Regions from separate parts of the Homo sapiens genome. Here regions 2, 3, 4, 5 and 6 are each linked to region 1. The links come from fine-mapping of genetic effects on gene expression. A gene starts in region 1. Each other region holds a variant in brackets. All regions are shown on one strand. Distances are between the middles of the regions. Region 1 holds the start of SUSD1 (sushi domain containing 1). Region 2 overlaps SUSD1 (sushi domain containing 1). Region 3 overlaps SUSD1 (sushi domain containing 1). Region 4 overlaps SUSD1 (sushi domain containing 1). Region 5 overlaps SUSD1 (sushi domain containing 1). Region 6 holds the start of LINC02977 (long intergenic non-protein coding RNA 2977).

Region 1 (5,159 bases):
ATTTTCTGGCAGAAAGGACTGATCACTTATATTTCTCTTGGAAAACATTCATTTTCACTGCTATGGACATAAATCTTTTACATTATCATCAGTTTTCGGCAAGTTAACTTCTAGCCCTCTAGTGCTGCAAAATAGCCTAGTCAATAGGAAGTCCAGCGACGGTGCACCCAGCACCCCACTGAAAGGATACCCAGTAATCTCTTTTGCCCATTTCCAAGTTTTGGACAAATTTTCCTGACATTATCAATAAAAAATGTATATACATATATACTTAAGTTTATTTATTTTGCAAGGGGCCACAGTGGGGATGAAGTGGTATAGGCTGGTTAAAAATCTTAAGTGAATGGTATATTTGTTGAAACAATGACATGATTTCCAAGTTTGAAGTTTATGGAGAGCTGAACTTAAAAAATTTGTCTAAATAATAGAGACACACCGTCCATCTATTGCTCCCCAAACAGGTGCCTGTCTTTGTTGATCAAAAATAATTTTCAAGAAAGCCTGCTAAGAAAAGAGCTTGTGAGGCCAGATGCAGTGGCTCACTCCTGTAATCCCAGCACTTTGGGAGACCAAGGTGGGAGGATTGCTTGAGCCAAGGAGTTGGAGACCAGCCTGGGCAACATAGCCAGATCTTGTCTCTACAAAAAAAATTTTTTAAATGAGCCAGGCATGATGCTGCGCCCCTGTAGTCCCAGCTACTGGGAGGTTGAGGCTAGTGGACTACCTGAGCCCAAGAGGTTGAGGCTGTGGTGAGCTGTGCACTCCAGCTTGGGCAACAGAACAAGACCTTGTCTCCCCAAGAGGAAAAAAGAGCCTAGGAAGATGAGCTTTTTCTTTGTTTGTTTTTGTTTGTTTGTTTTTTTAAGAGAGGGGGTCTCACTGTATTGCCCACATGGGCCTTGAATTCCTGGACTCAAGCAATTCTCCTGCCCTTCAGCCTCTTTAGTAGCTGGGACTACAGGCATGCCACACTTCACCCAGCTTGAAGTTGATTTTTAACTACTTGTTAAGACTCCACAACTTTAGCCCTTATATGGGTGTGTTTGAAAGTGGTGAGATTTACGGCAGGCTCATGGCAGAGAGTAAACAAGTGAGGATATGGGGTGAAGTAGTGGGGTGCCTGCTCTCGGCTGCGCTCCCACAGACATCACAAGCTCAAAGCCTTCAAACCGGATCTTATTTATTTCCTTCTCCCCGACTAGTCATAAAACCTAGTGGATTCCACTCTTACACACTGCCCTCTTCACACTCATTTGTCAATGCCCAGCTGCAGGACACATCTATCTCTATCTCTATCTGTCTGTCTGTCTGTCTGTCTGTCTATCTATCTATCTATCTATCTATCTATCTATCTATCTATCTATCTATCTATCTGTCTATGGAGTCTCACTCTGTCGCCCAGTCCGGAGTGCAGTGGTGCGAGCTCGGCTCACTTCAACCTCCGCCTCCTGGGTTCAAGCAATTCTCTCGCCTCAGCTTTCCGAGTAGCTGGGATTACAGGTGCCTGCCACCGTGCCCACCTAATTTTTTTTTTTTCAGTAGAGACGGGGTTTCACCAAGTTGGCCAGGCTGGTATCGAGCTCCTGACCTCAAGTGATCCACCCGCCTCGACCTCCCAAAGTGTTGGGATTACAGGCGTGAGCCACCGCACCGGGCCAGGACATGTCTTCTATTGCCTGATTCCTGCAGCAACTCCGGGCTGGACTCTTTGCCTTCCACATCCCAACCCAACCCCAATCCCAATTCCACAGAACAGACAGAGATGTGTCAGTGATGAAGTCATTCACTGCTTGAAACTGTGACAGCTTCCCGGCGACCTCCATCACTTGGGTTAGGAGGGCTAACTTCCCTCTGCAGCTCAACGCCCCTCTCCAACCCTCTGCTCTCACTCTAGGTCCCCATTCCCCATTTCTACAACAAACTCCCGCTTAGATTCCTCCCCAACGTCCTTCTCATCCTTGGGTCTTGGTTTACTCCTTCCCTTGGGATGAGTACGGCTGTGATGGAGGTAGGGGCTGGCATCAGCGCGTCCCAAGCCGGGTGTCCTCAGAGCAGCGGGGACTGATGCCAGCCCCTCCCTCCATCACAGCCCTACTCTCTCTCACTCCCGGTGACCAGGTGTCACCTGGTCAAGTGTGTCGCCCCTGGGTGGCCTGGGTCTGCGTCTTCCGACCTCTCATCTGGGCCTTGCGCTGTGGTCACCTCATCCAGCTCCCTTTCACGTCCTGGAAGATTTCCGCCCCTTGCTCCCCTCACCCCTCTCCCCGGGGGTGCCTCCCTGAGCCCTCGAGTGGCTTGAATCCTCCGCAACATTTCCTCCCCAGCACTCTCCGGGGCTCTGCGTCCAGCTGTGTCATTATCCGATGAGTGTCTGTCCCCCTTTGCGAATGTGAGCGGCGAGAGGGCAGCAAGTGCGGAGCCAGAGACGGACGCGGAACGGGCGTGTCCTAAGCCCAGGCCCCGACAAGAGGAAGGACCCGCGCTCTGCGGCCTCCCGGGGACCCCGCAGCGCCCCCCGCTTCCCTCGGCGGCGCCGGAAGCCGCCGGCTGGTCCCCTCCCCGCGGCGCCTGTAGCCTTATCTCTGCACCCTGAGGGCCCCGGGAGGAGGCGCGGGCGCGCCGGGAGGGACCGGCGGCGGCATGGGCCGGGGGCCCTGGGATGCGGGCCCGTCTCGCCGCCTGCTGCCGCTGTTGCTGCTGCTCGGCCTGGCCCGCGGCGCCGCGGGAGCGCCGGGCCCCGACGGTGAGTGCGGGCTGGGACGGGCACGGGCGGCCGGCGGGGCCCCCGGCTGGGCCTCGAGGACTCTGGGCGCACGGACGCTTCCCCGCCCCTGGGCCGGGCCGGCGCGGTGCCGAGGCGTGGGGCGCAGGTGGGGCCCGCGCCGGCCGTTGGAGATCGGCAAGGAGGAGCTCAGAGAAGCGGGGGGCTCCCCGCCGGGCTTCCCTGCCCCCGCCCGACCCCGCGACGCCGGGGGACGCCGGTTTTAAGGCGGCCTGGCCGGGCCCCCAGGGACCTCCACTGCCCAGGAGGCGGGGTGGGGGCTGGGCGCGAGCGCGGACCCGGGCAGGGCGGCGCCCGGGGAAGGGCGGGGAGGCCAGGGCGTTCTGCGGCGCTGTCACGCTTCCGGCTCTGCGGTGGCTTTTGCATGACACATTTTTGACCCGAAGCAATTTTCTTACCACTTTTAATTTTTTCACGTTGTTAGAGAGCCGGATGCTAAATATGGTGAGAAAGACGCGTAAGGAAGAGTACAGGAGTGAAGCCATTAATTCACTCATTCATTCAACAGATGGCCCTTGAACAGCTTCCCTGTGCGCGATGAGGGCGGGCAGTGCGGGCCCTCGTGGAGCTCATTGTCTGGAGGATTTAGACCAGCAAATGTTCTATTTCCAAGCAATCGAGGGAGTTGTTTTTCCTCCTCTGCAAAATGCAGTGTTGAGCTGAGTAGGAATTACACAGAGGATTCAGACACGCAGGGGAGGTGACATTCATCCACATAACTGTAATACAAGGCAGAATGGCATGGGTGCCATGAGAAGGTGTGGGTGGTGAGGGCAGGGAAAGGGGAATCGGTGGTGACCCTTGAGCTGGGCCATCAATGATTGGTCATATTTGGATATGGGAAAATGTGAAAAAGGTATCCCAGCTCATAGCAGAAGGCACTGTCACCTCTCCACAAATGAGTGTAGAATGAATGAATTCCTTCAGAATTCAGGCCCGGGGGAGAAGGGAAGGAAGCACACGGAGGCACCAGAGGCAGAGGGCAGAGTGCCTTGATTGGCAGACCTAGGCCTTTGGACTTAGCTGTGCCTGGAAGCCACTGGAAGCCGTCTCAGGGAGTGACAAGAAAAGTGGGTCTAGCCAGTTCTAGGCGCTTCGGGAGCCACAGGTTACAGTGCAGACATGGCCAAATCCAAGCACCACACCACACACAACCAGTCCCGAAAATGGCACAGAAACGGCATCATGAAACCCGGATCACAAAGATACGAATCTTTTAAAGGGGTGGACCCCAAGTTCCTGACAAACATGCGGTTTGCCAAGAAGCACAATAAGAGGGGCCTAAAGAAGATGCAGGGCGACAGTGCCAAGGCCATGAGTGCACGTGCTGAGGCCTTGCCCTCATAAACCCCAAGGAGGTTAAGCCCAAGATTCCAAAGGGTGTCAGCTCTTGCCTACGTTGCCCACCTCAAGCTTGGGAAACGTGCTCGTGCCCGCATTGCCAAGGGGCTCAGGCTGTGCCAGCCAAAGACCAAGGTCAAGGATCAAACCAAGGCTCAGGCTGCAGCTCCAGCTTCAGTTCCAGCTCAGACTCCCGAAGGAGCTCAGGCCCCTACAAAGCCTTCAGAGTAGAGATCTGTGTCTGCCAACGTGAGGACAGAAGGATTGTCCCCCTTGGACTGCCATCTGCATGGGGCTGATGTCCTCCTTTGCTATTTGTATAAGTAAACTTGAGGCGGGGGAAAGAGGGTCTAAGGAACCCCCATCTTCCTTACTAAAACCAAACGCTGATCCTGAAGTGGAAGGAAATTTCCATGTGATGACATACAAGGAGACTTGTGGTTGAGAATCCTGCCTGCCGCCCCCACCCCCATTCTCTTTGGCTTGGGACTTTTACCATGCCTGATGGGTATTTCAATGGCTTGATCTTCTGGAGTGGCCATTTTTGTAATATTAGGTGCCCTGGTTAAGATTCCTTCCTTGGCTCTATCTCCGAGAACAGTGCGCATAGGACTTGCAGATGCTTGGCGTCTATTTCAGGATCTTCCTGTGATATCTCTAAGGTAGGAAACTGTCCAGTATGATCCCATTGAATTGTTAGACTAAGATGGCTGAACACAGCTAGTAGCTACGTAAGGTCATCTGTAACTAAAGGTTTTGGGGGTGAATTTGGGGAAACAGAAGTCAAGGCTTCCTGGTTGAGCCCCCTCTCCTTATCTAGACATTCTCCCTTCATGTTCAACCTTGGAGAACCTGGTTTTATGAAGGGCAGGTTTCCTGACAGTCGACAATGTAGGGAAAGACTGGAGGCTTGGACAAGCCCATTGAGGAAGTTGTTGCAATAGCTGGCCTGGAAGTTCTGAGGACTGGGCCCACAGTAATGACAGCAGAAACGGACTGAATGTAGACAGTAAGGTGGAAATGGACTGGAAGGAAG
Region 2 (5,159 bases), 95 kb after region 1:
GGAAGTGTGAAATCAGTTTCACTAAGCTGTAATCAAGGTGTCAGTAGGCCTGTGTTTCTTCAGGGGCGGGGGGTATCTAGGGGAGAATCTATTTCCACGCCCTTTCCAGTTTCTAGATCCTGCCTATACTCCTTGGCTTGTGGCTCCATCCGCCATATTTAAAGCTCATCAGTTTAACCTCTGCTTCCGTTCTTAAATCTTCTAACTCTTATGTTCTTGTTGCTCTCTTATAAGGATGTTTGTAATCACATTGAGCTCATCTGGACAATTCAGGATAATCTCACTGTCTTAGTCACCTCTACAAAGTGTTTCTGCCATGTAAGGTAACATACAGGTTCCAGGGACTAGGATGTAGACATGCTGGTGGCGGGTGGGGGTCATTATTTAACCTACCATACTTGTTCTTGAAGATAGATAGAAAATGATCAGTTTTTGTATGTTGCCTTTCTGTTATTTTCAAACAGTTTCATGTTTGATTAGTTGAGTCTCTTAGATTTACTGGCAGTTGCATCATTTGTTGCTCTTTCTGGCATTTATAGCTCATTTTTTTTTCTTGCCTTTTTCTGCATTGTCTAGAATCTCTTGAATAAGGCTCAGTAATAGCTACAAGACCAGACATCCTTGTATTGTTCTTAACTTTACTAGAAATTGCTTAATTGCTTTACCACTGAGTGTGGTGGTTTCTTATAAACCCTATTAAACTAAGGCGTTTCTGTCAAATGAAGTCCTAGCTCACTAAGATTTCAAGTTAACAAAGTATATTAAATGTATTAACAGTTCCATTTATAAAAGTAACCACATGGTTTCTCTCTTTTAACCTATTAATAGCTTTTCCAATAATGATACTCTCTGTATTCTGGGAATAAATCTTTGGTCGTAGTGTATTGTTCTTTGAATGTACTACTGACTTCTTTGTGCTAATATTTTATTTTGGATTTTTGTATTTATATCAACAAGCAAATTTGGCATAGGATGTTTAGTGATTGGCTGTGCCATCCTTGTACAGGTCGGGCATTGTGGATTATTTAGTCATATTAAATGATTTGGGGACCCTTCCACCTTTTTGTATAGTCTAGAACTGTTTAAATACTATTGGAGTTATTTGTATTTTGAAAGTTTCAGAAGTGTAACTTTGGACCACTACTACTAATCTCCAAACCTGTCTCTACCCAGCTGTGGGTCTGCATTAACCTGGAATCATCTGTACTCCTCCTGTTCCTTACCACCTGTTCATCTTTTCCTCCTGTTCCCTACCTGCTCCGTGTTGCAACATTTGAGGTACAGCTTGTGACTTGTACAGGTTTTCTTTGTGCCAAGCTGCCCAATCCATAGAGAGGAGTCGTGTCTACCAACTTGGCTTCATTTGTAGGAACCTGTCAGGCCAGGGAGTTACAAAATACAGCCTTACCTTTCATGAGACCTTCCTTTTTTCACGTAATTTGGGAGTTGTCTTTATCACTCGTTAATCATCACAGTGTTCCTGTGAAACTTCTTAGCAAGTCTGCTCTATTATTTCCACTTTAGGGACAGAGATCCTTATTGAAGGAAGTAACCTCTGATGTCAGGGTTTTGAATAAATAGTCTTTCTTGACTACTTGGATGGGTGTACCTCCACATTAAACTGTATCAGATCTGAACTGTCTTTTAGATTGATTACTATGAAACTGAGCAGAGGACAAGAAATATTTCTTTGCTCACAAGAGATAAGGAAGCCCAAACCAAGAGAATCCCGCCACCTCCTATTCTTTTCCTCATGAAAAACCTGATTGCTTCAAAGCACTTTTTTCAGTTCCTCAAGGAGCAATTCTCTGCTGAAATGTTGCTCTTAGCTCAGAATTTCGAACCGACACTTATTTGTATAAATGAGGGTATACAAGGTCCAGGACAAATAGTTGTAATTTTAGCTTAGTAAGCCAAGGAAGCTTGCAGTAAATAGACTCAAATAATTTTTTTCCTTTTTCTTTTCTTTTTTTTTTTTTTCTTGAGACAGAGTCTCACTCTGTCACCCAGGCTGGAGTGCAGTGGCACAATCTCTGCTGACTGCAACCCCCGCCTCCCAGGTTCAAGCGATTCTCCTGCTTCAGCCTCCCAAGTAGCTGGGACTACAGGCACACACCACCACGCCCAGCTAGTTTTTGTATTTTTAGTAGAGATGGGGTTTCGCTATGTTGGCCAGGCTGGTCTCGAACTCGTGGCCTCAAGTGATCTGCCTGCCTTGGCCTCCCAAAGTGCTGGGGTTACAGGCGTGAGCCACTGTGCCCGGCCCACTCAAATAATTCTTAAGAGGGGTCCTCCGATTAGGTATCTTTGGATCTGAAATCTTTCATCAAGACTGAGTTTACCTAGATATAAAAGTGGTATTACTTTGAGACTGCTACCACTAATTTCTAAATTAAAATACTGTTGAACTCATGCTAACACTTATCCTTGGAAAAATGGCTCAATTAAAAGGTAGCATTTTTTCTATAGAGTGTAAATTGATTTCTCATTTCTTTTCCACTACAGTAAAACAGACCATCAGTAACATTTCAGGATTTAATGAAACCTGCTTGAGATGGAGAAGCATCAAGACAGCTGATATGGAGGAGATGTATTTAGTAAGTGACTGAAAGTTACTGTATTTATAGATGGTTGTCTTATGTGGGAGGCTTAAAAATACCCACAAACCTAAAAATCTACATCTATAACTATCATTATCAGTAGACGATTTACTGTGACAATTGCATCAAGAAGCAAGAAGATGGCCACTTCTGTGTATTTAAAGACAGTGGCTGGGCACAGTGGCTCACATTTGTAATCCCAGTACTTTGAGAGGCTGAGGCGGGCGGATCACTTGAGGCCAGGAGTTAAGACCAGCCTGGTCAACATGGTGAAACTCTGTCTCTGCTAAAAATATAAAAATTAGCCGAGCGTAGTGG[C/T]GCATAGCTGTAATCCCAGCTATTCAGGAGGCTGAGGCAGGAGAATAGCTTGAACCCAAGAGGTGGAGGTTTCTGTTAACCAAGATCGCGCCACTGAACCCCAGCCTGGGTGACAGAGCAAAACTTTGTCTCGAAAAAAAAAAAAAAAGGAGGGGGAAGACTGGGATGAACTTCTACTGGAAGAAATTAAGTAAGAACAAAAGGGTGTCTCTTGGCCGAAGTGTCAGGGTGGTTAAGGAAAGGGTAGGGTCACCAGAAGCTGGCAGGAAGAGGAGAAAAACTGTTCTCAGGTTCTAGCAGACCAGCTACGAGTATTCTAATTCAGGTCCTGCTTAGTTTGGATTCCTAATATTCTTTCTAGGAAAATGTTCTTGTCCTTGCTCCTGCAGTTTTGCCAATAGACTTTCTTGTTGTGTATGTGCACTGTATGTGTGAGAATAAGGAGAAAGCTGCCAGTATTGGGACCTTAGCCTTTTGTGTGTTTTTATTTAAAAATATATTTATTATACAAATAATATTTTAAGTACAATATTTATAGTATTGCAACTCTAATATTTGCTTACTGCTGCATTTCACCTTTTGAAGAAACATTAGAGTCCAGAGAGAGAGAGAGAGGAAGAAAGCTCATGAAAACGGGAAGGGGCTGGGCGCGGTGGCTCACGCCTGTGATCTCAGCACTTTGGGATTCGAGGTGGCAGATCACTAGAGCTCAGGAGTTTGAGACCAGCCTGGGCAACATGGCGAAACCCTGTCTCTACAAAAAATACAAAAATTAGCTGGATGTGGTGGCATGCATCTGTGGTCCCAGTTACTTGGGAGGCTGAGGAGGGAGGATCACTTGAGCCTGGGAGGTTGAGGCTGCAGTGAGCCGAGGTCATGCCACTGCACTCCAGCATGGGTGACAGAGTGAGGCCCCCATCTCAAAAAAAAAAAAAAAAAAAGAGAAAGAAAAAGGAAAAGGGGAGGTTTCAAGGCATCTAAAGCCTTTTAGGCCAACCATTCACCCAGTGAGCTTTTTTATGTTTCAGTTCCACATTTGGGGCCAGAGATGGTATCAGAAGGAATTTGCCCAGGAAATGACCTTTAATATCAGTAGCAGCAGCCGAGATCCCGAGGTGTGCTTGGACCTACGTCCGGGTACCAACTACAATGTCAGTCTCCGGGCTCTGTCTTCGGAACTTCCTGTGGTCATCTCCCTGACAACCCAGATAACAGGTAAATCTTGAATAACAGCATTTGGATTAACAAAGTTACCACAGAATTGTTCATAGGTCCTGATAAAGAGGAACACTGTTGCTTTTTATCATTATATAATGAACTTTAACAGGGAGAGGAGGAAGGACATGGAATTGGAGAGGTGCCTTAAGGCGCCTCTGTGACTGTTATGTTTCATTCTTTTTTCTTTTTTTGAGGCAGGGTCTTGCTCTGTCGCCCAGGCTGGAGTGCAGAGGCACGATCATGGCTCACTGCAGCCTTGACCTGGGCTTAAATGATCCTCCTGCCTCAGCCTCTTGAGTAGCTGGGATTATAGTTGTATAGGCCACCATGCCTGGCTAATTTCTGTATTTTTTGTAGAGACGGGGTTTCACTATGTTGCCTAGGCTGGTCTCGAACTCCTGGGCTCAAGCAATCCACCTGCCTCGGCCTCCCAAAGTGCTGGGATTACAGGTGTAAGCCACTGCGCCCAGCCTGTTATGTTTTATTTTTAAAAAGATACCTAATAACCACAGGGGAGGTCTGTGGGGAGGGGGAGGGGGAAGATACCTGAAACAAAATGTCAGCATTGATGAAATGTGGGTAGTGTGTCCATCCATGGTGTTGGTTGTATAGCTTCTGGATATTTAAAGCATTTAAAATACTTTATACTTAAACAAAAAATGCTTGTGGCTCTTTCTTTCTCAGGAATATTTAGTTGGCATCCTGTTGCAAGTACTTTAAGAGTAGATTACTAGCTAGGCACAGTGGCTCAAACCTGTAATCCCAGCACTTTGGGAAGCTGAGGAGGGTTGATCATGTGAGGATCATTTCGAGATCAGCCTGGCTGACGTGGTGAAACCCCACCTCTACTAAGAATACAAAAATTAGCTGGGTGTGGTGTCAGGTGCCTGTAATCCCAGCTACTCGGGAGGCTGAGGCAGGAGAATTGCTTGAACCCAGGAGGTGGAGGTTGTGTTGATCTGAGATCGCACTCCAGCCTAGGCAACAAGAGCAAAACTCCATCTCAAAAAAAAAAAAAAAAAA
Region 3 (5,159 bases), 59 kb after region 1:
GAGCATGAACGTACACACCCAGGGCTCAGCTAGGGACCTTAATGCTCGATTTCATTTCATCCTCTTAAAACCCTTTTGAAGTAAGCTTTGTTATTTTCATTTCATAGATAAGTAATCTGAGACTCATAAAGGTTAAGTGACTTTTACATGGTCACTCAATAATTAGCAAATGGTAGAGCCAGGATTTGAACTGAGGCCTGTAAGCCCAGAAAGACCACATTCTTTCTCCTACATCAGTGTCTTCCAAGCTTGAATTATTTGTATACCACCCTGACACAATGTTTGCCATAATAAGAGTATTATTTACTTAGAGTGTTTCCTTAAACAACCTAACCTTAAATTTATAATTCAAATTTATTAAGGACAATATATGTGATCTCATGAGTTTGATGAAGTAGGTGTATTTTTCTGATATACACAAAAACTGATACATAACGAACAGATAAAAATGTATTCCTGGCTGGGCGCGGTGGCTCACGCCTGTAATCCCAGCACTTTGGGAGGCCGAGAAGGGTGGATCACCTGAGGTCAGGAATTTGAGACCAGCCTGGCCAACATGGTGAAACCCCGTCTCTACTAAAGATACAAAAATTAGCTGGGTGTGGTGGCACGCGTCTGTAGTCCCAGCTACTCGGGAGGCTGAGGCTGGAGGATCACTTGAACTCAGGAGGCGGAGGTTGCAGTCAGCTGAGAACATGCCACTGCACTCCATCCTGGGCTACAGCGCAAGACTCCGTCTCCAAAAAAGAAAAAAAGTATTCGCGTGCCACCAAAAATCATCCCAAAGTGTGCAATATATTTTACACTAACGTACTCTAAGCCATGCTACTCCTACTTATTTTATGTGAATCTAAGACTTCAAAGAAAGAAAGGAAACACATGAAAACTTTTATAGCCAAACATACATTTATTCAAGTAGGCACTGTGGGAAGCCATACCCTGATTTCTGTGGTGCTGCCATTATCATCATGTGTTTGCCTTGGAATCCTATTTGATAATGTCCTTTGGAGGTAGTTTATGAGCCGTATTAGAAGATCAGTTACATTCCTTTTGAAATCAGATGCTGTTTTGACTAGAAATGATGCTGAGCTTGCTTGACCATCTGTTTGGGTCACCTGGATTTATTCTCTATGACCTTTTGCTGTTTCCAAAAATAAAGAAAAAGGATATAAAATTGGAAACCAAGGGAGTACACTAGACCAGCCCCTGTCCTTGCACAGTGGGACTTCTGAAAGAGTAGTCTGGGCTCACTGTCTTATTCCCTCCCCTCCTATGCTCTTCTCAGCCTACTGGGGGGAAACCAGGCATCGAACACCCCCACTTCACTGTAGCATCTCACCAAGGTGACTGATGACTACCTAACTGCCAATTTCATGTTCCAGTTTCAGCTGTCATTCTTCTCAACCTTTCCACAACATTTAGCATTGTTGATCCTTTATCCATCCATTCAACCAGTTCAACCAAATAATACATAGTTTTTAGTATCTATATTTAAGGCACTGTGCTAGGGCCTGAGGATAGAGAGAGAAACATGGTCTTTGCCATCGTAAAGTTACATTCAGGAGAGGTGGTCATTATATAATGACTTACGTATTTAGTTACAAGTGTGTTAAGTACCACATACAGAAATACTAGATGCTAACAAAATACCAAAATACATAACATTATGTACATCTATATCTATATATACATAACATATATATGTACCTGTGTGTACACACACACACATAGAGTAAAGCAAAACAAAGGCTCTTACTTTATCACTCACTGAGACTTTCTCTCCCCAAATCCAGTGAGACTTCAGCTGGACACTGTGGGGGCCTCCTTCTTTTAAGCCAGAGAGGCCTCTGTGTTCTACAACTGGGCAGGCTGAGGGCCTGCTCTTCCCACCTCTACCCAAAGTCAAACCACAGATCTAATCCTGATGCCGTGGGCACTCCATGAGGGGAGAAAAGCCATGTGAGAGGAGAGAGGGAGATGGAGTTTGCACCCTCTGCCTTGACCTGCTCCAGGCCCTTCTTGGCTAGGGGATGAGGAGGCTGTGGGAGACTGGTGGGAAAGAAGGCTGATAATTTTCTTAAAAGAATTTATTTTTATTTTTTAGGGACAGAGTCTTGTTGTATCACCCAGGCTGGAGTGCAGTGGCACGATCTCAGCTCACTGCAACCTCCGCCTCCCAAGTTCAAGTGATTCTCGTGCCTCGGCCTCTTGAGTAGCTGGGATTACAGGTGTGCACCACCACACCTGGCTAATTTCTCTATTTTTAGTAGAGACATGTTTTTGCCATGTTGGCCAGGCTGGTCTTGAACTCCTGGCCTCAAGTAATCCGTCTGCCTCGGCCTCTCAAAGTGCTGAGATTACAGGTGTCAGCCACTGTGCCTGGCCTTGGAAGGCTGAGAGACACTCTTTCAAGTCCTTCCTTTCCTTCCTAGACATCAGTCACTCTACCAGCCTCCTGCCTCTCTTCTGCATTGCCTTTTTCCTCTGGTTCCCCCCTGGGTTTCAGTGTTTCCCAGTGTTCTGCCATTGGGCCATTCACTGTCTCTGTCCTACCTGCATATCTCACCTGCACCCATACCTTCAACTAACATTCACAGATCTATGACTTTCAAGAGTACTTTTTCCCTACATAGTCAGCAGATAACATCGTCACAGCCCAGTGCCTGGCATGGCAGGATGCTTGGCATTTGATAGCCATTCAGTTAGTAGTGAGCAGGGAATGAAAGAGCCC[T/C]GGGACAGCTCCAAAGAGGACTTCCAGAAATGTTTTCAGTTATCAGCACTATTGGAATGAGGGCATATAGTCTCCATTAAAAGGGCAGCATTAATGTAGATGTTGAATATCTGATTCTTTTATAAAGGAGTCTTTCCAACTAATTTGTAGGCACCTGGAGGGAAAAGCAACCAAACTTTGTTAAACTGCTCCCTGGGATGAAATATCTGACACCCCTATAATTGGATCTGGGTCCCATCTGTGCAGAGAGCATGGCACAGGCTGGAGGCAGATGGCATCTTTGAGATGCCATTTACAGTTGTCATAGTGAATGAGCAAGAAGGAAGGACAAGAAAGAAAACTCCTTTCTAATCTCTGCTTCGATGACAAAGGAACTGAGAGTAAAAAGGAAATTCGCTTTGCTGGCAACTCAGAGAGAAGATGAGGGCTGGGCTGGTGCCTTTTCTTTCTGGACCAGGTGGTGAGTTAGCATCAAAGGGATGTGTAAGTGAGCAGAGATGCCAAGAGCTCTGGGGCTTTGAAGGGCAGCAAAGAGGGTAGAGGCCAGAAATATCTGGGGCTTGTTCAGGCTGATAAAAGACTGGTACCAACATCATCTTTATGCTACCCAAGGGGGCGAACTGAAGGTCATTGTGTCTCTTAGGGTACCCATGCTCATAATTGGAGTATTTCTTTTCTTTTTTTTTTCTTTTTTTTTTTTTTTGCAATGGAGTCTCATTCTGCCGCCCAGGCTGCAGTGCAGTGGCACAATCTTGGCTCACTGCAACCTCTGCCTCCCAGGTTCAAGCAGTTCTCGTGCCTCAGTCTCCCAAGTAGCTGGAATTATAGGTATGTACCACCACGCTTGGCTAATTTTTTTGTATTTTTAGTAGAGATGCGGTTTCACCATGTTGCCCAGGCTGGTCTCAAACTCCTGACCTCAAGTGATATGCCCATCTCAGCCCCGCAAAGTGCTAGGATTACAGGCGTGAGCCACCGCACCCACTTGGCCCACAATTGGAGTATTTCTTTGATTTCAAATTGTGTGTGTTCTAGGGAGAAATACTGATATAGAGATCCAGGAATGCTGCAGACAGCCATAGGTGGCCTTTCTGGTATCTCGGCAGGAGTTTGCCTATTTTTCCCTCTCTGCCTCCATTGATTTTCACTTGCTAATAGATAACTTGGGCTTACCCAAGACCAGGTCATGTGGGACACAGAATCTAGGCATTGCTGCTGAAGGGATGATTTAGTAAAGATATAAACTCTTCTTTGGGCAGAGAGGTCAGTAGATCTGGGTCAATCCAAAGCTAGCATTGGTTCTGAGTACAGGAGAATAGGATTGGCCCTACAGGTACCTAAGGTGCAGGCTTCCTTTTGCACTTGGAGACTGCGAAGAGATTTACTAGAAGGGAGAAACGGGAGCTGAGTTGTGGAGAGTCATTTTCTGACATGGAGAAATAGCTTTCTCACTCTTCTTAGATGGGAGCCTTTCACTGGGTTTATATTTATTATGCAGTAGAGAATCAAATCCCAGGCACCAGGAGTGGGAAACAAGGGCAGTAAAACAGGGAAAGAAGGAGAGTCAGCGTATGATGCCTGATTGTACTGGTCTCCACAGAGGGTGGGCATTACCACATCTGTGTGACAGTGTCCTTAGACGCTGAAGAAACTAAGTCTTTGTTGGACAGCCCTTCAGAGGAAAGAAAGGAGGAAGGATTTCTCTACCAGCTCCTGTCCCCACAGGATTTTAACTCCCCTGCACTTCCAGATGGCATGTGCTGGGGTGTGGGTGCTGCAGCAGGGAAGTCCCAGAATAGGAGGCAAGACCTGGTCATGTTGTCAAAACCCATCCAGGGATGGGACAAGGAGCAGGGGAAGCTGAGAGAGGCTGAGGAGTTCTTAAGAGGTGTCTGCTTCAATGGGAAAGCTTGAGCTGGGGCTGTGGAATATCCCTTTTTGGTGACATGAGGACAACTTTCTCTGGGAATAATTATATGATAGCTTCTGTCTGCAGGAATTTTGTTTGTTTGTTTTTGTTTTTGTTTTTGAGATGGAGTCTCACTCTGTCACCCAGGCTGGAGTGCAGTGGCAGGATCTTGGCTCACTGCCACCTCTGCCTCCCAGGTTCAAGTGATTCTCCTGCCTCAGCCTCCCAAGTAGCTGGGACTACAGGCATGCACCACCATGCCCAGCTAATTTTTGTATTTTTAGTAGAGACGGGGTTTTGCCATGTTAGCCAGGCTGGTCTTGAACTCCTGACTTCAGGTGACCAACCTGCCTTGGCCTCCCAAAGTGCTGTGATTACAGGCGTGAGCTATTGCACCAGGCCTGTTTGTTTTTGATAGTATTGTAAATGAAATTGTTTTCTTAATTTCATCTTTGGACTGCTCATTGCTAGTATATAGAAATACAATAGATTTTTGTACATTGACCTTGTATCCCGCAA
Region 4 (5,159 bases), 120 kb after region 1:
AGAAACCTGTAAATAGTTCTTGTCTCTTCCTTCTTTCTTACCTTCTTATCCAGATCATCAGCAAATCATGTCAATTCTACCAACTTAATTCTGTTTAAAATCATTCTTTCCTCTCCTTTGTCTGCACTGCTCAGACTTTGTCATCTCTTGCCTGAACATCACTTTTCTACCACATCTTTCTGTCTCTTATTCTACCCGTCTCCTTGCTTCATACCACTGCCAGCATGAGTTTTATAAAATGCAAGTATGATCCAGGCATTTCAGTTTAATAAGCTCCCTTCTTCACCTGGCCCCTGCCAGTTTCTCTCCTTTGATATACTCCATTCCCCCAAATGGCCTTGCTATTTGAAGTCCCTTCCATTCTCCAGTGTCTTGAAATATGTTCTTTACTGGTTATTCTTGCACATTACCTTCCATTTCTAATATCTGCACTTAGCATCAAAGCAAATGTTAGTCACATTCAAACGCTTATGGCTATTTTAAGCTTTTCTCAGATTTTTTTTTTTTTTTTTTTTTTTTTGAGACGAAGTCTCATTCTGTTGCCCAGGCTGGAGTGCAATGGTGTGGTCTTGGCTCACTGCACCTCCGCCTCCTGGGTTCAAGTGATTCTCCTGCCTCAGCCTTCCAAGTAGCTGGGAGTACAGGCGCCCACCACCACACCTAGCTAATTTTTATATTTTCAGTAGGGATGGGGTTTCACCATGTTGGCCAGGCTGGTCTCGAACCCCTGACCTCAGGTGATCTGCTCATCTCAGCCTCCCAAAGTGCTGGGATTACAGGTGTGAGCCACTGTGCCCAGCAGCTTTTCTCAGAATTTTTAAGCTTAAATTAAAAAAAAAATTAATAAAATCCAAACCAGAATGCCCAAGGCTGTCATTTGAAAGAGACTCTCCTAATGACATTGGAAGGATCCTCCTCTAACCCTCACCGTGCAGCTTCCTCTGGGGAATATTTTCAAGTCTTATATAGAGCAAGTCCCCAGCATTTGTAACAGGTAAATAAGCATATCATAATGACAGGGGGGAAGAGATATTCATTCCACTGAATCTATAGATTTCTTCTACTATGGATGAGCTTTCATATATGTTCCTGTTGCTTTCTTCCCGGTTCATGGACACATTTTGGGTAACTGACGTTGCTAAGTGACATCTAGATAGATGAAGTATTATATACTGGGACTTCTCATAGCTTTGCCTCTAACATGCATCACTACTTCTTGCTGAACCTTCTGAACGTGTGACCTCAGAATCCTTTTCAGCATAATTCTCTAGGCGGTCCATGCCAGTTGCTCAGAGCTGGTCAGGGGAATGGTCCTTTTTGTCACTCCTGTTGTTGGCCTATCATATATGCTTTCCAAGACCTGTTGGAAACCTATAGAAGTGATCTGTAGGGTCACTTCTGTCCATGCAACCCACGCCGGTCCCTTGAACACTTAGTGATATCACAAGATATTAGAGCTAGATTGGACTTTAAAGGTCTAGTTCAGATTAAGAGATTGAAAAAGCTGAAACTCAGAGGGCTTCAGCCTCCAAACTATATTTAAACTGACACTGTGTGCCACCTAGCTAAATGCATTGCTATGTTTTCCTTTATAGGTGAGAAGACACTCCTGTGCAGTTTGGGCTCAGGTGAAAGGTAAAATTATTTTCTGCCTATGAATGCTGTCCTTATTTCTTTTCTGCAGCATCAAGTTCATATTGATGAGATCTGTTTATATAATTGTCACTGGTGACCAGAACCCAATTCATACTACTTTAAGCAAAGAGCTTCATAGCTGAAAAAAAATGGGAGGAGGGTGAGTGGATGGGAGCTTATGGAATTATACAAAGAGCTACCCCACCAAGAAGGCTCCAGGAACTGGGACTGGGGACTCAACACCGTGAGTGGGACTTTCTAT[T/C]TTTCTCTTGTTTCAGTTCTCTGTTTCTAAGAGTCACTTGGCTTCGTTTTCTTCTACTGTAGGACATGTGAGAGGGAGTGATGGCAAGCTCCCGCAGCTTACCGATTTCACTGGGAAAACATAGCTTTTCAATTCGGGGAAAGATTCTTTCCTGCTAGGTTAAGTGACTGCCCATTGGATGAATCACTGTTACTAGGAGATGGGCTAGGATGATTGGCCTCCCTTGGGTTTTATGTCTCCTCATGGCTGGTTGGAGGCAGAGCAGTGTGAACAATAGGTCCACTAGGTTTGCAATGAAAGGGAGACAAAATCCCTATCAAGAAATGGGGCACAGGAAAAGATGCCGAAAAGCCAATACAAGAGCTACAACAGTCCACTACCATTCGGCTGTGTAGCTTGTGCACATACACATATAATATTAAGAAAAACTGTAATCCCAGCACTTTGGGAGGCCGAGGCAGGTGAATCACCTGAGGTTGGGAGTTCGAGACCAGCCTGACCAACATGGAGAAACCCTGTCTCTACTAAAAATACAAAATTAGCCAGGCATGGTGGCACATGCCTGTAATCTCAGCTACTCGGGAGGCTGAGGCAGGAGAATCACTTGAACCCGGGAGGCAAAGGTTGCGGTGAGCCGAGATCGCGCCATTGTACTCCAGCCTGGGCAACAAAGGCAAAACTCCATCTCAACAACAACAACAACAAAAAAAAAAAAAAAAAAAAAAAAAGAAAAGAAAAACTTCTTCCCTTAACAAAATGGAACTATCCTATGCATGATCCCACATGGAACCCTAGTGGAAGACAACTGAAAGCTGGGTCCGTTACTGCATCCAGCTCCAAGACCAGGAATCCTGGGGATAGCATCTTCCTCTTGGTCAAGTCCAGATGTGTTTCTTGTGCTCTATTTAAGTAATCTATGACTAAATGGCAAATTTAACCAATCTCAAACCATAATACATAATATGAGAGGGAAAACTGAATAGCACAATAAATACGCTCATTTAGAAAGGAGGAAAAGATAAAGCAATGTACAGTGGTCAGGGGGCCCTGTAGCAGTGATCACCTCTTGCTGGGCAGGACAAGCAAGCATCCCCTGCCCTGGCAGCAGAATGGGTCACTTGGGTGGTCAGTTTGGGTCTGCCTGATGGGACCCCTTGTCCATTTCCTCCAAAGCCTTTCCTTAGAGATGCAGTGGGAACATTTCTGCTGAGCGCTGTATAGCTTAAACCTTTGCCTTGGAAGAGTTATCCAGGCGGGGAAATTGCCTTAGGGTTTGAGCAATCACAGGTCTTTGTTTTCCAGGCTCGGGATTTCCCTGGCAGTACAGTACATTTCTTTAAAACCAACAGGCAGCCAGCCAGTGGATTTGATTCCCAGGAATTCCATTAGTTTGTAGCTAATACCAGAAATCTTGTTGAGTTTATGACCTTGGAATCTGGACCTTTTCCGTGTGGTTTGTGGGTCCTAGCAACAGGCTGTCAAGTTCTGCCCTTAGCCCACAGTATCAGTTTAACCCTTTACCTCCTCTCCCCGCCTCAGAGCAGCATAAAACAATCAACTGGCATGGTGAGGAAGTGCCAGCATAAACTTGCTTCCCTAAGGATTCCACTGGATAGCACTTTTTAATGGGGAATTTTTTATCCTGTCAGTAGAGAATACTGTGCAGGAAATATCTGGGAGGGGCCTGGGGAATTAGGCTTCCTCCATTTGTCTGCTTCTCTCCTGATCTTATTTTCATCTTTTTACCTCTGCTCAAACCAACTGCAACAAGGGTAGAGGACTTGGCTTTTCAGCAGGGTGCAAGGCGGGTTACCTGACTGTCAGCCATCTTGGATTGCTGATGACCAGGCAGTGAGGGCCCCTCTTGACAAAGATGGGTGCTGTCCTGTTTCTGTGTGCAGATGGGCCAAGTCCCTTTACTTGTAGGACTTTAATAAAGGCCACACATTCCAACATTCATAAATTTTTTTTTGCCAGTCCATCCCCTGAAGCTCTAGGATTGGGCATGGCGTTCTCACGAGGAAAAGAGATGCTTTTATCAGAATAATTAAGATGACAAAGCTTCCAGACACAAAAATAATAGCTTCCAGAATCCACTCTACTCAGCAGCTGTTTGCTATGATTGGAAGACATTCAAACTGGGTAGAAGAAATCGCCAAAGAGCTGGCTGCAGTCATTCTGCTATGATTAAATTAACAGGGAGGATTTTGCTTTGAAAATATCTAAGTGGCTTTGGCAGTGCTCTGGTTTCCCCTCAGCTTGAGAACCAATATTGAAGGAGAGTTTGAGCCTTTGAAATTAAACCACTGGAAATCTCTGGAAGATAATAGGAAAAACACTGTTCTGTGGAAATTCTGAAGGCAATTCTAGCAATACTTTTTTATGTATAACATTTACCTGTGTTGTGCACCCATCTTGGGCAGTCTACTTTTTCAAAAAAGTTTGGAGACTGCCATTTCAGAAAGTAATTTGCAGAGAACCGAGATCTAAATTAGTCCTGAAATCGTGCCAGTTCACTCGTGCCAAGGCTCAGCCCCATTCTGGCCTTTGCCCAGTGACAAATTATGCTATTTACCTTTTGCATATTGCCCCTAGAAGAGCTTTGTAAAGATGATCAGGAAACCAGCAGTCGGTTTGATGGAAGATGCAGAGGCCTGGGCTTACTTGCCTGAGTCTTCTGCTACTAATCAGCCAAGTGTCTTTGAAATAGTATTTAACTTGGCCAGTTCTCAGTCGCCCTCTCTCTGGGATCTCTGAGATGCTTTCCAGCCACAGAGTATTATGAGTCTGTGATTTCTTGAGTCACAAAGCAAGGTCATTTGATATATGTGAGATGATAATAAGCTGTAATCGGGGAACATTCTCCAGTCGTAAGCATGAAACCTCTGAGTTATTCGGGACTACTCCTTTTTCTCTTTCAGCCCACATTTAGCACCTTGGGCACGCCTCTCTGATTTTCATTTCTGTGTTCACTCCCTGAGCATAGGCCTTCCTACCTGTAGCAGGGATGACGGGCAAATCCTCCTTCCTCATCTCCCATCACAAGAGTTCAGAATTTCCCTCGTCATTCCAGCCTACACACCACCACCTGACTTGTTTCTAAACTCAGAACTGATTTTGTTTCCTCTGCTTCTGTGGTCCTCCATTATTTTTCAGTTTGGCTTCCAAGTCCTCTATTTGACACAAACATACCCTTCTAATTACATCTTTTATTCTTCTCCATTCAAACCAATGTTCCAGCTGTTTTCTGGCTATGGCCCAT
Region 5 (5,159 bases), 29 kb after region 1:
ATGGCACCTTTTGTACAGGTACTCAAGAAGGGGGCTGCGGTGTTGACAATTGGCGATGGCAGGATAGTATCTGGGCTGTGTATTTGTTAATATTAGGGAATTAATGTTAGTTTTGTTAGATGGCATAATGGTATTGTGGTATATAGGATAATATTCTTATTTTGGGAGATGCATGCTGAGGTATCTAGGGGTGTTATGATGATGTATCTATAATAGTGTTCCTTTAGTCTGTAAGCTACTTTAAATGGCAAAATGTAAACAACGATTGAATCTTGGGGGGATGTGGGTCTATGGGAGTTCATTGTAATATTCTTTTTCTTTCATTGTAATGTTTTGTTTGAACTTTTTTTTTTTTAAGGGGGGGGTCTCACTCTGTTGCCCAGGCTGGAGTGCAGTGGCACAATCTCGACTCTCTGTAACCTCCGCCTCCTGGGTTCAAGCGATTCTCCTGCCTCAGCTTCCTAAGTAGCTGGGATTACAGGCACGCACCACCATGCTCAGCTAATTTTTGTATTTTTGGTAGAGATGCGGTTTTGCCCCATTGGCCAGGCTGGTCTCAAACTCCTGGCCTCAAGTGATCTGCCCGCCTCGGCCTCCCAAAGTGCTGGGATTAGTCATGAGCCACTGCACCTGGCCTGATCGTTTTCATAATGAATAGTGAGGAGGGACTCTCTGGAGATGGTGTGCCTCCTGCAGGTTCCTGTAACCACAGGTCGGGGGTCCTTGGGGTGAGTGGCACTCCTCAGCTCAGAGCACACTAATCTGGGGGCTGGCACCCGGCTGTTGGCTCACAGGAGGTCAGAGTTGTCCCTGTTAAGAGATGTGGGCTTGCCTCCCACATGTGTGCGCTGAGTGAGGAGTGCGAGTTTTGGGAGCATGGGAGCTTTGTAGGCTGGGTCTCTGAGCATAGGCTGGTCGAATACAGGGTGGGGACAAACCCTCCTAATTTTTAGCGGCTCCTCTGTTATCTGAACTCTATAAACAGCATACGCTATTTAATGTTGCTCTCTGGCTTTCTAGGAAAATCTTTGAACAATAATGAAGAGGAAAGGCAGAAAAAGCCTCCTGGTTCTAAGATGCTTTTGCATAGACTTAATGACTCTGCTGGAAAGCTTCGTGATATTTAAAGGTTTTCAGGAAAAATAAAATGAAAGGAGAACATATTTTATCTTCTTAGCTACCAGGAACCGTAGGTTCTTATGCTCGGATTCATCCTCCCTCTTGACCTGTACCAAGGCAGAATCTCTCAAAGGATACATTTGATTTATTCTTGGCACGAATGAACACATTCCTTCAGAGAAAACATTTTATAATATCCTGTTGTTCTAGGTAGCAAATTACTGGCTGCATGGTTGCAGAAGTACAATGTTACAGTATTAAATTTTGTATATTAAGAAGAAAAGACACTAAAAAAAAAGCATATAAGATGATGATCTAGTGTTTTGTTTATTCAATACACATTTCTCATGTACTTTTTCTTTTCTTTTCTTTTTGAGACGGAGTCTCGCTCTGTTGCCCAGGCTGGAGTGCAGTGGCATGATCTCGGCTCACTGCAGGCTCTGCCTCACGGGTTCAAGCGATTCTCCTGCTTCAGCCTCCTGAGTAGCTGGGACTACAGGTGCGCACTGCCACGACTGGCTAATTTTTGTACTTTTAGGAGAGACGGGGTTTCACCATGTTGGCCAGGATGGTCTTGATCTCTTGACATTGTGATCTGCCTGCCTTGGCCTCCCAAAGTGCTAGGATTACAGGCGTGAGCCACTGTGACCCAGGCTGGAGTGCAGTGGCACAATCACGGCTCACTGCAACCTCTGCCTCCTGCGTTCAAGCGATTCCCCTGTGCTTCTCCTGTCTCAGCCTCCTGAGTAGCTGGGATTACAGGCACCCGCCACCATGCCCAGCTAATTTTTGTATTTTAGTAGAGACAGGGTTTCACCATGTTGGCCAGGCTTGTCTCGAAGTCCTGACCTCGGCTGATTCACCTGCCTCGGCCTCCCAAAGTGCTGGGATTACAGACGTGAGCCACCACGCCTGGCCTTTCATGCACTTCTTATATGACAAGACTGTGCTAGTGGAAGGGTGACGAGCAGACAGCTAATTTCAGTATAAAGTGTTAGTCATAGGTAAGCAAACAGCATTTACTGGAATCTAGGGGTCACTTATCTTGGCTGTGAGGAAGGAATCAGGGGAATCTTCTGGAGAATATGATCCCTGAAATTGTGTTTTCTAGGCTGTGGGAGTTTGCCAGGGAAAACTTACAACTGTATATTTATCAGTATGTTTATAGTTCCAAGAGATGAATTCAGCTTTTGAAAGTTATGAAGAAGGCTGGGCATGGTGACTCACGCCTGTATCCCCAGGACTTTGGGAGGCCAAGGCTGGAGGATCACTTCAGACCAGGAGTTCAAGACCAGCTTGGGCAACATAATGAGACTTCATCTTTACAAAAAATAAGAAAATTAGCTGGATGTGGTGGCTTGTGCCTGTTGTCCTAGCTACTTGGAAGGCTGAGGTGGGAGGATCGCTGGAGCCCAGGACTTTGAGGCTGCAGTGAGCCAAGGTTGTGCCATTGCACTCCAGCCTGGGTGACAGAGCGAGACTTTGTCTTAATTTTTTTTTTTTTTAAGTTAGGAAGAAGAATGAGGAGGAGGAAGAGTGAGAAGATTGGTGGGAACAGGAGGAGGGAAGAAGAGGGGAAGAGGAAAGAGAAAAAAATATTTTATGTAAGGGCCAAATAGGTGTCAGCCGAACTAGACCTAATCTGCCTGGAACTAAATCCAGATCTAGGCTCTACTTTTATTTATTCCATTCTTGCAATGATTGAATGACCTTCTCTTTTGTAAAAAATTGAGCTATAGTTTACATACCATCAAATTCACCCTTTTGATGTATACAACTCAGTGGTTTTTAGTATATTCACAAAGTTGTGCTAGCATCACCACTGTCTCATTTTGGAGCATTTTCATGCCCCCACCATGAAGACCATGTCCACTGGCAGCCATTCCCATGACCTTTCCTTGTGAGTTCTCCAGTTATCACTTTGTAAAAGCTGATGAATTGCTTTTCTTGATAATACTGTT[TC/C]TTTCAGAATCACAGTTGCCAGAGAAACATCAGCGGGCTTTAGCTGGGGCAGAGCTTAGCAAGTGTTGGGGTATCAGCAGTTAGTCACTGTTTGCCTGGAACCACAGGATGTGAATCCTAGTTCCTGGATTCCAAGGAATCCTGCATCCAGGTGTTTATTGTGCTTTGCAGAGTCAACATCAAGCTCAGGAGCTGGTTGCAGGTAGGCCTCTGAATGTCACCAATGTTAGAGGAGGAATGAATTGCTGGGGTTCTAGTGTGAGATGATTCCAGCCAGTCATGGAGAACAGGCAGATGTTCTGGCCCTTAGAACTGCCCCCTGAATGACTCCTGGGAATCATGGAAACCACCATGAGCCACAACCCAGGAGAAGAAGCTCTGTGGCACTTCTTGTGTGAGGGTGGTTTGACTTGGATGGGCTCCTTCAGCAATTGAATAGAATTACTGGTTCCCAAACAATAATTGGTGTGAGTGGAGAGGCGTTCATTGATCCAAGACCCAAAAGGAAAAAGAATAAAGAATATAAAAGTTCAAAAGGATTCTGAGGCAATTTTCTTTTATCTTTTGGGGGCTAAAATGTCATTTAAGAAAAAGAAATTATAGCCAGGTGCATTGGCTCATGCCTGTAATCCCAGCACTTTGGGAGCCAACTGGGTGGACAATTTGAGGTCGGGAGTTCGAGACCAGCCTGGCCAACATGGTGAAACCCTGTCTCTACAAAAAGACACACAAAAATTAGCCGGCGTGGTGGTACACACCTGTAGTCCCAGCTACTCAGGAGGCTGAGGCAGGAGAATCAGTTGAAGTCAGGAGGCAGCGGTTGCAATAAGCCAAGATCACACCATTGCACTCCAGCCTGGGCAACAGAGTGAGACTCTGTCTCAAAAAAAAAAAAAAAAAAAGGAAATTATGGTATTACTAGCTTTTTGAAATTTTTTTTTTAAAAAACAGACTTTCTTCAATCATGCTGCTTCCTGTCTTCTGCTCAATCCCTGATGTTTTTATGCCAATGTCCTAGGAATTTCAGTTAGGGTGCTTTTTTGTTTTCTCCAAGTGGAATTGAACTATGTGGCTCTGATGAAAATAGTATTATTATTATTTTTAGAGATGAGGGTCTTGCTGTGTTGCCCAGGCCGGCCTTGAACTCCCGGACTTAAAGCAATCCTCCTGCCTCAGCCTCTTGAGCAACTGGGACCATAGGCATGCCCAGGCATGCCCAGCTGATGGAATTCTTAAAGTTTTAAAGTCAGTTCTGAGGGAAAAAACTACTAACTGGAAGAGAGATTTCTTCTCCAGCCTCTGGCTTATTGGGCAGTTTTTACCCTATACCTGCTGCCTCTGATAGTCTTCAGTCAGGTGCAAAAAAATCTGCAAAAGGGCATGTCCTGTCCTTCCAGAAGGCTGTTTTAAGGCTGTCTCATTTTCATAAAATTAGTAAGACCTTTCCTAATTAAGTTACCACCTTATTACCTGCCACACCATCCTATACTCATGGGCTGGCATTTTCACTCTCCTGGAGATTGTTTTCCTTATTTAAAACATTAAAAATGTTGTTTATATTTTAAGTTAATTTTAAGACAGGTTCTCACTTCGTTCCCAGGCTGGTCTCAAACTCCTGGACTCAAGCAGTCCTCCCAAAGTGCCAGGATTACAGACATGAGCCACCGTGCCAGGCCTGTAAATTGTTTTCTATCTGAAGCCCTACTTTAGATGTTTTAGTATGAGGTTGGGACCATTCTTTTGTTATAATGATTGGGTATATTTATAGTGATTGGATATATTTATAGTGATTGGATATATTTATAGTGATTGGATATATTTATAGTGACTGGATATATTTTAGTGACTGGATATATTTATAGTGACTGGATTCTTTTAGTGATTGGATATATTTATAGTGATTGGATTTTTTAGTGATTGGATTTTCTTTTTTTTTTTCTTTGAGACGGGGTCTTGCTCTGTCACCCAGGCTGAGTGCAGTGGCGTGATCTCGGCTCACTGCAAGCTCCGCCTCCTAGGTTCAAGTGATTCTCCTGCCTCAGCCTCCTGAATAGCTGGGACTACAGGCATGTACCACC
Region 6 (5,159 bases), 140 kb after region 1:
TGTTGTGATCATTCTCACATTCCTCTCCTTCTCAGCGGTGTGGTATGTGAGGGTGTCATTTTTGAGAAATGACTGGAATGGAGGGGAGGATGGGTCAGAGTCACGAAGAACAGCTGGGGATGAGGGGAGTCAAAGGGAGTGTGGGTGGAGGTTGTCCTTGGCTCAGCAGAGCACACTCAGCGGTGAAAGGCATGACTAACCCTGTACCTCCAGGTAGCATGGGGGATGCCTTCCCAGGAAAAGAGCAGGACCAGTGATGGCTGCCCTGGCCACACACAGAGGGGTGGCTGAGCTTCCATGCTGCTCCCCCTCGCCTCCTCCCATGGGTGTGCGTGTGAGCTGTGCATAGAGATGCACAGTGGGAAAACCAAAGTGTGTTCATATTTGTCTCTTTTCTTTTCCTCCTCCATGTCTAGATGGCAGATGGACACTGAGTGGGGAGGATGCACTGCTGCTGGGCAGGTGTTCTGGCAGCTTCTCAGGTGCCCGCACAGAGGCTCCGTGTGACTTCCGTCCAGGGAGCATGTGGGCCTGCAACTTTCTCCATTCCCAGCTGGGCCCCATTCCTGGATTTAAGATGGTGGCTATCCCTGAGGAGTCACCATAAGGAGAAAACTCAGGAATTCTGAGTCTTCCCTGCTACAGGACCAGTTCTGTGCAATGAACTTGAGACTCCTGATGTACACTGTGATATTGACCGAAGGCTACATACAGATCTGTGAATCTTGGCTGGGACTTCCTCTGAGTGATGCCTGAGGGTCAGCTCCTCTAGACATTGACTGCAAGAGAATCTCTGCAACCTCCTATATAAAAGCATTTCTGTTAATTCATTCAGAATCCATTCTTTACAATATGCAGTGAGATGGGCTTAAGTTTGGGCTAGAGTTTGACTTTATGAAGGAGGTCATTGAAAAAGAGAACAGTGACGTAGGCAAATGTTTCAAGCACTTTAGAAACAGTACTTTTCCTATAATTAGTTGATATACTAATGAGAAAATATACTAGCCTGGCCATGCCAATAAGTTTCCTGCTGTGTCTGTTAGGCAGCATTGCTTTGATGCAATTTCTATTGTCCTATATATTCAAAAGTAATGTCTACATTCCAGTAAAAATATCCCGTAATTAAGATTGTTCTTCCCTTGGTTAATTTTTCTGTTACTAAGCGTCTTCTAAAAATGCTCTTTGCCCCCTGTTAGAAACTGAGATTTGGTGGTAGTGTAGTAGCAATGCTTAAAACAGTATTGAGCCCATGGCTAGACTAGAGTCCATGTGTGTTTCAGGGGAGGGGTTGCCATAGAGGGTGACACTTCTTTTATCTAAACTTCAGTAACTATGAATGTTACTCCATTATGAACTATGAAACATTAGATATAAGCGGTGCTGGACCTACTGTGAATATGCTAAGTTGACAGCTGGAGTCTATTTGATTTTACTTTTAAATCATGAATTGGCATTCTTTCCTCTTTTTTTTTTTTTTTTTTTTGAGATGGACTCCCACTCTGTTGCCCAGGCTGGAGGGAAGTGGCGTGATCTCAGCTCACTGCAACCTCTGCCTCCCGGGTTCAAGTGATTCTCCTGCCTCAGCCTCCCATGTAGCTGGGACCACAGGGCCCCCCCACCACGCCCAGGTAATTTTTGTATGTTTAGTAGAGATGGAGTTTCACCATGTTGGCCAGGGTGGTTTCAAACTCCTGATCTCAGTTGATTCGCCCACCTTTGCCTCCCAAAGTGCTGAGATTACAGGTGTGAGCCACACGCCCGGCACTAACTAACAATTTAACTCCAAGACTCAGTAAGAAACGAATGGGGAAGGAAAGACAGAGGCTTCTGGCATCTCTCCTTCTCCCTTGCCTGCTAGGCCTAGAGAAGAAAAACCATGGAGGAGGGGAGGTGATACTGCACAGCCTCAAGATGCAGCATAGACGAATGCAGTCCTTAGCAAAAGGAAAGGGCTTCCCAATGCAGTGGGCCGGTGTGTTCACCGGCTTGCTGGGTGTCAGTGAGGGAAGACTCTGAGTGCCTTGGGCTTATGGGCAGATGAAGAGACAAGAGGAACAAGTACAAACTGCCCATGTAGCTGCTCCACCCCAGGGAGTCCAGAGTGTATCCGCTCTATTGGGAAGAATTAGAGAGAGGCGAGTAATATCCTGACATTCAGGTGTTCAATGCCAGCTGTCAGCCTCTGGCCCCTGCCAGTGTTAGGAATGATTCCCCTGTCCTCTGGGGTACTGCCCTCCGACGACAACTTAGGATCAGCATTTAAAACCCTTTCTGCTCTCGTCTTAGGTAAATTATAGACCAGAACGGGTCTATAATGGGGACAGGTCCCCATCCTAACCCCCAGAGACCGTTTCTCTCAATAGATGAATACAAATAGCTCTCAATTTTTAATT[TTTA/A]TGTGCAATAATGCAAACATACTTTTTTTTTTTTTTGAGACGGAGTCTCACTCTTTCTCCCAGGCGGGAGTGTAGTGGCGCTATCTCGACTCACTGCAAGCTCCGCCTCCCGGGTTCACGCCATTCTCCTGCCTCAGCCTCTGGAGTAGCTGGGACTACAGGTATCCGCCACCGTGCCCAGCTAATTTTTTGTATTTTTAGTAGAGATGGGGTTTCACCGTGTTAGCCAGGATGGTCTCGATCTCATGACCTCGTGATCCACCCGCCTTGGCCTCCCAAAGTGCTGGTATTACAGGCATGAACCACCACGCCTGGCCGCAAACATACATTTTTATAGCTCCTGAACTAAATTGGGTATCAATACAAATTACTGTGGTTAGTGTAGGGCTCGGCCTCTGATGAGTGAGGATCTTTCCTCAAAGCCCACCTTTGTCCAAAGAAAGAATCTGAGCCTCCCCTTGACTTATTTTATTTTTTGCCAGTTTTGTAAATGCTGTATGCTTCCATACTACCCCCTTCCCTAATTTCCACCTCTAGAATTAACTGCCAGAGATACAGTTGTCCACATGGAATGTAGTATAATTGTGATAGAAAGGAAGAAATCCCCCTTGCTTAGTATTAAAAGTTTCTGGTTAAAATAACTGACTAAATATTAAGTAAAACATCACCTTCTGGGTACAATGCAGAAAAGTAAAAGCAGTTCATATAAGATTACTAAACTTTGGGAGGTCTTCAAGACCAGCCCTGGCAACATAGCGAGACCCCATGTCTGCAAAAAAAGTTTTAAAAATTAGCCGGGCATGGTGGCGTGCACTTGTAGTCCCAGCTACTCAGGAGGCTGAGGCAGGAGGATCGCTTGAGCCCAGGAGTCTGAGGTTGCAGTGAGCCGTGGTGACACCACTGCACTCCCGCCTGGGTGACAGAGTGAGATCCAAAAAAATTTACTGAAATAACAAAAACGTGGACTTTGGGATTTCCTCTAACTGCTGCAAATTATAACACAGAATTGCTCAGTGTTAATACTTGAATTGTGGGGCCAAGTCTTCTGGCTGCCCTAGTTCTCTTTTCTGGCATTTGAAAGCCCTTGAGCTAGCTATGGAGCTAATCTTTGGACAGGCTTTTTGGTTCCCAGGAATGTCATGCCTTTGAATTTCCAATCTATATATATACAGTGTGTGTGTATGTATACCTGTCTTTTCACTGTAAGGCACCTCCACCCATCCCTTATAGAAGGAGCCACAAACAATCAAGCAAATGGATGGAGGTTAATTAAGGGGAAGAGGAAATAGTCTGTTCTCTGACTCGAGACCTGAAATTGCAGTGGGGCACGTAAGGTAAGACCAGAGCAGAAGTGATTATCTTGAAATTCCACTTTAGCTTGGAATAAAATTAATATTTAAATTGATTTTAAAGGAAATAAAAAAGAACATTCAGTGTTCCCTTTTCATTGCTAATCTCACATTTTCTGATTTTCTAAACCTTTTGTTTTCCCATTCTTTTCTTCTAAGAGGAACTCAATGGTCTCATAGAAGTCAATCAAATAGCGTTGTAAGAACCTTTTACCTACCACATCCTTTGTTGGTTAGACTGAACCAACAAAGCAGTGCCTGCTTCTGGGGAGGAAGGATGTGGCCTTTTCTGTGCCCCAGTTTGTGGGAGGGTGAGTCCATGAAGCAAGTCAATTTAAAAGGCAGTGTGTGCTCTTGTTTCAGAGAGAGTGAATCCTTTGGGTGGTGGTGGTGGAGTATGTGTGTGTGTGTGGTGGGTGGGGGGTGGGGCATGCACATCTAGATCCATACTTTTTGGGCTCAACTCAGGGTTACCAAAATAGAGTCAAACTCAACTCAGGATTACCTAAATGGAGTCAAATTTTGTGTGTGGTTTTGTAACATGATTCTTTCAGTCATCATTTCCAGGCCACATTTTTCATGTCACTCATGACTGCATTATAAGTTTGTACCATAATTCATTTAACCAATACTCTGTTGTGCATTTAGAATATTTTCAGATGTTTATTGTCCTTATAAAAGTCAGTATGAAGGTATGCAATTATCACTTAGGCCACATTCCTGGAAGTAAAATTGTTGGAATGGAAACTATGTACATTTTACAGTGCAGATTGCTGGAAGAGTTTTATGCAAAAACTTATACAAAAATTTACACTCTTACCAGCAGAAAGCCTCAGCGCCACTGAGTGCTGTTGTATTGTTAATCTTGATTAATCTGGTATGTGAAGAAGGATGTTTCAATGTTTTGTCTGTGTCTCTCTGATTATTTTGCTTGTTGATTGGCCAGTTGTTAATTCTGTCTTTGTGAGTTGTCTTTTTCTCAGTACTTGGCCTATTTGTCTTTGATTTGAAAAAGCTCTTTATGTTGTAGTCATTTTAATTCCTGTCATATGTTTTGTAAACAATTTTTCGAGTTCATAATTTTTCAATCTTGTTTGTATTATATTTTGCCACACAAAAATTTTAAATTTGTATAGTCAAATTTATCAGTCTTTTTCCTTATGTTGGACCTTCTAATCTCAAGGTACTAAATATAATCTAGCATTTTTTTAAACATTAAAAATTTTTAATCCATCTATAATTTATTTTAGGATAGGGAGTGAGGCAGGGGAAGGTATCTTTTTAAATAAAAATCGTTGCTAAATGGTTGGCTAGTTGTCCTATTAATAGTCATTGAGACCAGGAGCGGTGGTTCACCCCTGTAATCCCAGCACTGTGGGAGGCTGAGGTGGGAGGATCACTTGAGGTCAGGAGT

What was found.
Region 2: its variant is fine-mapped to the expression of SUSD1 in whole blood (TOPMed, PIP 0.98).
Region 3: its variant is fine-mapped to the expression of SUSD1 in cerebellar hemisphere (GTEx, PIP above 0.99).
Region 4: its variant is fine-mapped to the expression of SUSD1 in whole blood (TOPMed, PIP above 0.99).
Region 5: its variant is fine-mapped to the expression of SUSD1 in whole blood (TOPMed, PIP above 0.99).
Region 6: its variant is fine-mapped to the expression of SUSD1 in whole blood (TOPMed, PIP above 0.99).

What each region holds. Positions count from the first base shown.
Region 1 is chr9:112,172,717-112,177,875 of GRCh38, reverse strand. It overlaps SUSD1 (sushi domain containing 1), which reads left to right and starts at 2,579. Exons shown (of 17, transcript NM_022486.5): 1 at 2,579-2,743. The coding sequence starts at 2,641. It also overlaps the pseudogene RPL29P20. RefSeq lists a silencer at 2,461-3,120.
Region 2 is chr9:112,077,512-112,082,670 of GRCh38, reverse strand. It overlaps SUSD1 (sushi domain containing 1), which reads left to right. Exons shown (of 17, transcript NM_022486.5): 11 at 2,506-2,597; 12 at 3,947-4,133. Among named protein-coding and RNA genes, the nearest start is that of LINC02977, 40 kb to the right of the region's middle. The variant C/T (reference allele first, on the strand shown) is at 2,919.
Region 3 is chr9:112,114,084-112,119,242 of GRCh38, reverse strand. The region is part of intron 6 of SUSD1 (sushi domain containing 1); the gene reads left to right. Among named protein-coding and RNA genes, the nearest start is that of SUSD1, 59 kb to the left of the region's middle. The variant T/C (reference allele first, on the strand shown) is at 2,732.
Region 4 is chr9:112,048,875-112,054,033 of GRCh38, reverse strand. SUSD1 (sushi domain containing 1) reads left to right here. Exons shown (of 17, transcript NM_022486.5): 15 at 1,596-1,635. Among named protein-coding and RNA genes, the nearest start is that of LINC02977, 11 kb to the right of the region's middle. The variant T/C (reference allele first, on the strand shown) is at 1,898.
Region 5 is chr9:112,144,103-112,149,261 of GRCh38, reverse strand. It overlaps SUSD1 (sushi domain containing 1), which reads left to right. Exons shown (of 17, transcript NM_022486.5): 3 at 1-18. Among named protein-coding and RNA genes, the nearest start is that of SUSD1, 29 kb to the left of the region's middle. RefSeq lists an enhancer at 3,735-4,934. The variant TC/C (reference allele first, on the strand shown) is at 3,081.
Region 6 is chr9:112,036,750-112,041,908 of GRCh38, reverse strand. It overlaps SUSD1 (sushi domain containing 1), which reads left to right. Exons shown (of 17, transcript NM_022486.5): 16 at 1-42; 17 at 417-1,126. The coding sequence ends at 417. It overlaps LINC02977 (long intergenic non-protein coding RNA 2977), which reads left to right and starts at 1,485. Exons shown (of 3, transcript NR_186812.1): 1 at 1,485-3,730. RefSeq lists enhancers at 1-237, 1-842, 238-877. The variant TTTA/A (reference allele first, on the strand shown) is at 2,394.